Regions from separate parts of the Homo sapiens genome. Here region 1 is linked to region 2. The links come from fine-mapping of genetic effects on gene expression. Tissue or cell type: anterior cingulate cortex. Region 2 holds a variant in brackets; the other region holds the start of a gene. All regions are shown on one strand. Distances are between the middles of the regions.

Region 1 (2,666 bases), 990 kb after region 2:
CCCTGGAGTTTGAGTCCAGCCTGGGCAACATAGGGAGACCTTGTCTCTAAAAAAATAAATAGAGTGAGAGAGAGAAGGGGAAGTCACCGGGAGGACACACATGGAGCACGCAGCCCAAATGGGGCTCCTCTGTTCTCCCTGCAGAGTCAGTTCGTACCTTTCACATGCACAAAGGTGTTGATCCAACCGAAGCAATATTGATTCTTGTTATATTGCTTTATTGTGGGGTCAGTGTCAGAGTACCACGAGTTTTCATCACGCACCGTTCTTTCCCCAGCTGCAGTGTGTTTAGGGGGGGAACGAGGCCCCACCCCCTATCCCTATCGCCTCTGCCTTTATAACGGCTGCTACTCTCTGAGCACCTGTTGAGTTCTTTCACCTTCCAGATCTAATGTGCTATCCCCACCCCTAGAGAACAGGGCTGCTGGATGCCACATGGCTCCCAGAGAGGGGCTGTGGTCAGGGAAGCCCCAGCTCCAAGGGGGCTGGAAAACCCCAGAGCTGCCCACGTGCGGCAACACAGTCTGGTGCTGCAGGTGTGAGGACGGCTACAAAATACCTGAGCCATTCTGTCACTCTGTCTGAACTCTGTTTGAAATATTGTTTCAATAACTGCTAGGCTGGTTTTTCCTTCCTGACTATATTCCTCAAACCAACAAGAGCCTAGCAGAGGAAAGCATGGCCAAAACGCCCCAAGAAGAGAGCCTTGGCTTCACCTCCAAGGGCCACCATCCGGGAGGATGTCCTCAGACCTCTGATCCCCTCTCTGCAGGCTCTGCCCAGCCCTGTGTGGCAACCCAGAGGAAGCCTCCCCTTCGTTTGAGATTTAACCCCAGACCTTAGGCGATGGCTGCCCAGCCTGTCCCTTCCGCCTGTGTGGCTGCCCACGCGGGCGTTGCTCATGGGGCTAGTCCTGGGTGGATGGGTGGGGGCCTCTCGCCGGCTCCTCTGCCTCCCACCCCCACTGGCACCCCACGCCTGTCCTAGAAGGTTCTTTCTGCCTGTTTTCTCCGTGAGTGACTGGACAGGCAGAGGCCGGCCTTGCTGGAGGGGGCATTTGTAATTATGAGTGAATCCAAAACAAGGTTTTTTCCTTCCGCAGCCCCCCGCCCGGCTGTGGGGCCCAGCCACTGCACTTCACCGGATGCCGTCTGGTTGGTCCTCAGGACTGATACAGACCAGGACCCCAGGGCCAGCCCGTGCCAGGCTCCTATGCTTCCAGGAGCACGGGTGGGTGGTCCTGCTGCCTGGCCGGCCATCCTCCTGGGGTCGGTCTCTGGCCGATCCTCCCTCCTCCTCTCAAGCCCTGCACAGCCCGGCCAGGCAGGTGCATCTTGTTTGGCTGCTGAGGAGCCGGGGGTTCAGGGAAATTAAGGAACGTGCCCAGGGACCCGGGGCCAGCCCGTGGGGACGCTGGGATTGGAGCCCAAGCCCCAGGTTCGCCGCGCGGCTCTCGACTTCCTCTCCTTTCCCCCAGGGGCGAGCTCAGCGACCGCAGAGAGGTGGGGTCGATCTCCCTGCGACCCCAGGGGGCCCGCGAGGCCAGTGCGCGGGCAGGAGCGGGGACGTGCTCAGAAGAGCCGGGCGCCGCCGCGCCCGCCCGCCCCCCGTCCCCCGGCTCCCGGCTCCGCGCGCCCCCCGCCGCCCCCGGGGCCCTGCTACCCCCGACCCGTCCCCTCCCGCCGGCCGCCCCCATGGCCCGGCTGGGCGCGCTGCTCCTGGCCGCCGCCCTGGGTGCACTGCTCAGCTTCGCGCTCCTGGCCGCCGCGGTCGCCAGCGACTACTGGTACATCCTGGAGGTGGCGGACGCCGGCAATGGCAGCGCCTGGCCCGGGCGCGCAGAGCTGCTCTCCTCGCACTCGGGGCTCTGGCGCATCTGCGAAGGTAACCGGCCACCGCGCCGGCCCTCCTCCCTCCGCGACCTCGTCCCTCCGACACCCCCTTAACCCCGCCCTGCTCGTGTTGCCCCGCCAGACCCCCTTCCAGGACCCCTCTCTTGCATCCCGCTCTGCCCCAGGGTGTCTCTCCGCTCCCTCCCCATCACCCTCCGTCTTCCCCCAAAACTGACAGCCCAAGGGCTACAGGAGGGAGGGAGCCCAGTTCGGGGCCCCTCACAGCCGGAGGAGGGGGCTGTGGGGCGACAGTGGGGGAGGGAAGCCTAGAGGTGTGTAGTTGGGGGGCCTCATCCAAGTCACCAGGGGTTGTTTCTTGATCACGCTCCCCGGGGTTTGGGCCTGGCAGCCCCTTGTCCCCGTCCCTGTCAGGCACTGTCAGAGCTGTTCACCCCACACCTCCTGATGCCGCGGGGGCAGGGGTTCCAAATGTGTACAGAGGCTTCAGAGTCCGGGGAGAGAGAAGGGGATCCCAGCAGGCTGGAGGGTCCACAGGGCCCCCTCCGTTCCCCCCAGCTCCCTCCTCCGGAGCTGGGGCCAGCCTGGGGAGCTTCCCCTTCACAGCGCGAGGGCTGGCAGGGCAGGGGTGTGTGTGTGAGTGAGCATGTGTGTGCATCTGAATATGTGTGCATGTGCTGAACATGAACATGTGTGAGCACCTGGCTGTGTATGTAAATATGAATATGTGAGTGTGAGTGTATGTAGTTGTGTGTGCATGTGAATATGAGTGTGTGAGCATGTCAGTGTGCATGTGTGTGCATGTGAGAGTGTGTG
Region 2 (2,840 bases):
TCAAGCAACCCTCCTGCCTTGGCCTCCCAAAGTGCTGGGATTACCAGTGTGAACCTCTGCACCACGCCTGCATACTGTCATTTTAAAAGTCAGATCATCTCTTCCATGAGGAAGGGAGTAGAACATGGAGCCTCAACTGTGCGCATGATAAGAATCCGTGCTTCCCCCTGGGGAAATATCAGGCCTTATGGGCTTAAGTGCTCAAGCAAGAGGGACTTCAGCTTAGACGAAAGCATGAGCCTCAGTTTTGCATTTTCCTAAGGAGCGTCATCTGCGCCTCTAGGAGTTTTTACTATCTGAGCCTCCGGGTTCTTCTCCAGCCGCTGCTGAGGGCATGAAGCCATCTGGGGGTGGGGGGCGCAGGTGTGGAAGGAAGAAGCATATCCAGTCCCTTGGACGTGGCAGACTCCCAGTGTGTGTGGCGGCGCCCGCAGGAGGCAGTCCCTCTCAGCCGCATCCGCCTTGAGGTTGTTCTCAGTTCTGATGTGGCCCCAAAGAGAACCAGTTCCATTATGGATTAGTAAGAATTTATTTTGAACATGTTGTGGGAAGATGGTGACTGCAGGGGGTGCGGCGGGGGGAGGGAGCCCATTAGAGGCACCAGGTTCCCCTCCAGCGAGCCCCCCTGGACGTTGCTTCTCCCTGACCCAGCACCTTGGTAGACCCCCTTTGTTGGCCTGTCCACCCTGCTCAGCAAACCCAAACCCGAGGGTCAGCCGAGCAGTACCCCCACCCCGGCGTTCCCAAGCGGGCCCGGCGTGGGGTGACTCAGCTTGTTCCACTCCATCTGTTAGAAAAGGCACAGGACTGTCCAAGGCTGAAGCGGGGTGGGATTTTAGGGGCCCCTCCATGCAAACAAACATAAATCAACTTCCGTCCTGCCAAAAGCTCTGCTGATAATTGAGAGGCAAGCTAATGAACACAGCAGTTTAAAATTCACTCTCCAATATCTATTGCAGAATTGCATTGGATAGTTAAAAATCAAAGAGTCTAGCCCCCTAGACCCGGCCTGCTTCCTGGGGAGGCTGCCCCCGAGTTAGGATTTCACATGACACCTCCAGCACTTCTAAAGGGCCAACCCCAGAATCGCTCACTCCCCAGCACGTCTGGGCTGTGCGCGGCACCCCAGGTAAATGCAGCGGCCTCTGCATTAGCCCGCGCTGCTTAGAGACGCTGCCACGACACTTCTGCCCTTGAGTCCGGTTTTGGGGATGGTTGATGTGGGGACACATGAGCGAGTGTGGCTCCTTTTGTGGACTAGACTGCTCTGCACGCTGTGGGGTGCCAGCCTGGGAGGACCCTTTGGCCACCATCACCAGAAAGCCTTCAGCCCAAAGACCTTTCTCAGGCGTTTACAGTTTATCCACACTTTTCCTAACAAGACTCCAACACTTCCAGTCTCTTGGGAACTAATTGGGAGGGCAAGTAAACACCTCTTCAACAGAAATGGCTCAGGGGGGCCTGTTGTACACCCCCCTGTGTCCCAACAAACCTCTGCCAGCCTCAAACAACTGGACAAAATCCTCCTGAGGGCACCAGAAGTGAGCTGGGGTGGCTGGCGCC[G/A]CCTGGTAGGGCACAGGGCTGGTCTGCAGGGTCATGTGATTGGAGGAACAGCTTGAACTAGGTTGCCTGGCAGGTGGACAGGCACCTAACCCCGCAGCAGGTGCCATAAGCGATGAAGTGGGTGGAGGTCTTGGGGAGCGGTAGTGCTGTTCCAGGAGCTCACTGGGCTCCATACCGGCAGCTTCCCCACGGTTCCAGAGTCCTCCGGGCTGCTCGGAGCCTGGGCACCTCCCTGTGCCATTTCAGGGCCATTTCCCTGTGTCTCTCCCCCTCGCAGCACTTGCCGTGGGGCGCGTGAACCATGGCTACTGAGTGAACGCAAGAGCGTCGAGGGCTTTTGTCCTCTGACAAGTGCACACTCCCCCAGGCACCCACGTGGAATTTCAAACCCAGTCACTTCTTCCGGAAGACCCATAAATCGCTCCTTATTGTTGTGTGACTGTAAATGTGTTCTAAACATTGTCCTTTCACGCCTGCGTCCTCCCCTGTGTGCACACTTTATTAAACGTTGAAAACAACTCTTTATTATGGAAAATCTCAACCTCCGGAGAGTGCAGACAGCAGCCTTATGAACGCCTCCGGATCCAGCCTCTATATTTAACAATCGCTAACATTTTGCCATATTTGCTTCATCTGGTTTTCTTTTCTAAACTAATCTAAAGTCAGTTACTGTCTCTGTGACATTTCCCCCTAAATCTTTTTTAGACATTTTCTTTTAAAAATGACATTTTCTTTTACTGAACCACAATACCATGATCACAGCTAACAAAATTAACCCTGATTTTCTAATATCATGGCCTGCCCAGTCCATGTTTGTTTGGTTGTCTCCCAAATGGCTTTTCCAGCTGGGTTTGTTCAAAACAGGATCCCAGGCTGGGCGCGGTGGCTTATGCCTGTAATCCCGGCACTTTGGGAGGCTGAAGTGGGCGGATTATCTGAGGTCAGGAGTTCGAGACCAGTCTCACCAATGTAGTGAAATCCCACCTCTACTAAAAGCACAAAAAAAAATTAGCCGGGCCTGGTGGAGCATGCCTGTAATCCCAGCTACTTGGGAGGCTGAGACAGGAGAATCACTTGAACCTGGGAAGAGGAGGTTGAAGTGAGCTGAGATCATGCCACTGCACTCCAGCCTGGGCGACAGAGCAAGACTCTGTCTTAAAAAATAAAAATAAACAAACAAAACCCAGGATCCTGATAAGGTGCATGCGTTGCATTTGGTGGTTTCATCTCTTAGTCACCTTTAACCTGCTGCCTCCTTTGTTTTTTTTTTCTTTTAA

Evidence for each region. PIP is the estimated chance that this variant, and not a neighbour inherited with it, causes the effect. A credible set is the group of variants that fine-mapping cannot tell apart.
Region 1: TMEM235 starts here. The variant in region 2 is the best candidate, but not a certain one, in a credible set for the expression of TMEM235 in anterior cingulate cortex (GTEx, PIP 0.55).

The regions. Positions count from the first base shown.
Region 1 is chr17:78,230,330-78,232,995 of GRCh38, forward strand. It overlaps TMEM235 (transmembrane protein 235), which reads left to right and starts at 1,302. Exons shown (of 5, transcript NM_001395503.1): 1 at 1,302-1,884. The coding sequence starts at 1,695.
Region 2 is chr17:77,240,730-77,243,569 of GRCh38, forward strand. No RefSeq gene overlaps it. Among named protein-coding and RNA genes, the nearest start is that of LACAT1, 12 kb to the right of the region's middle. The variant G/A (reference allele first, on the strand shown) is at 1,564.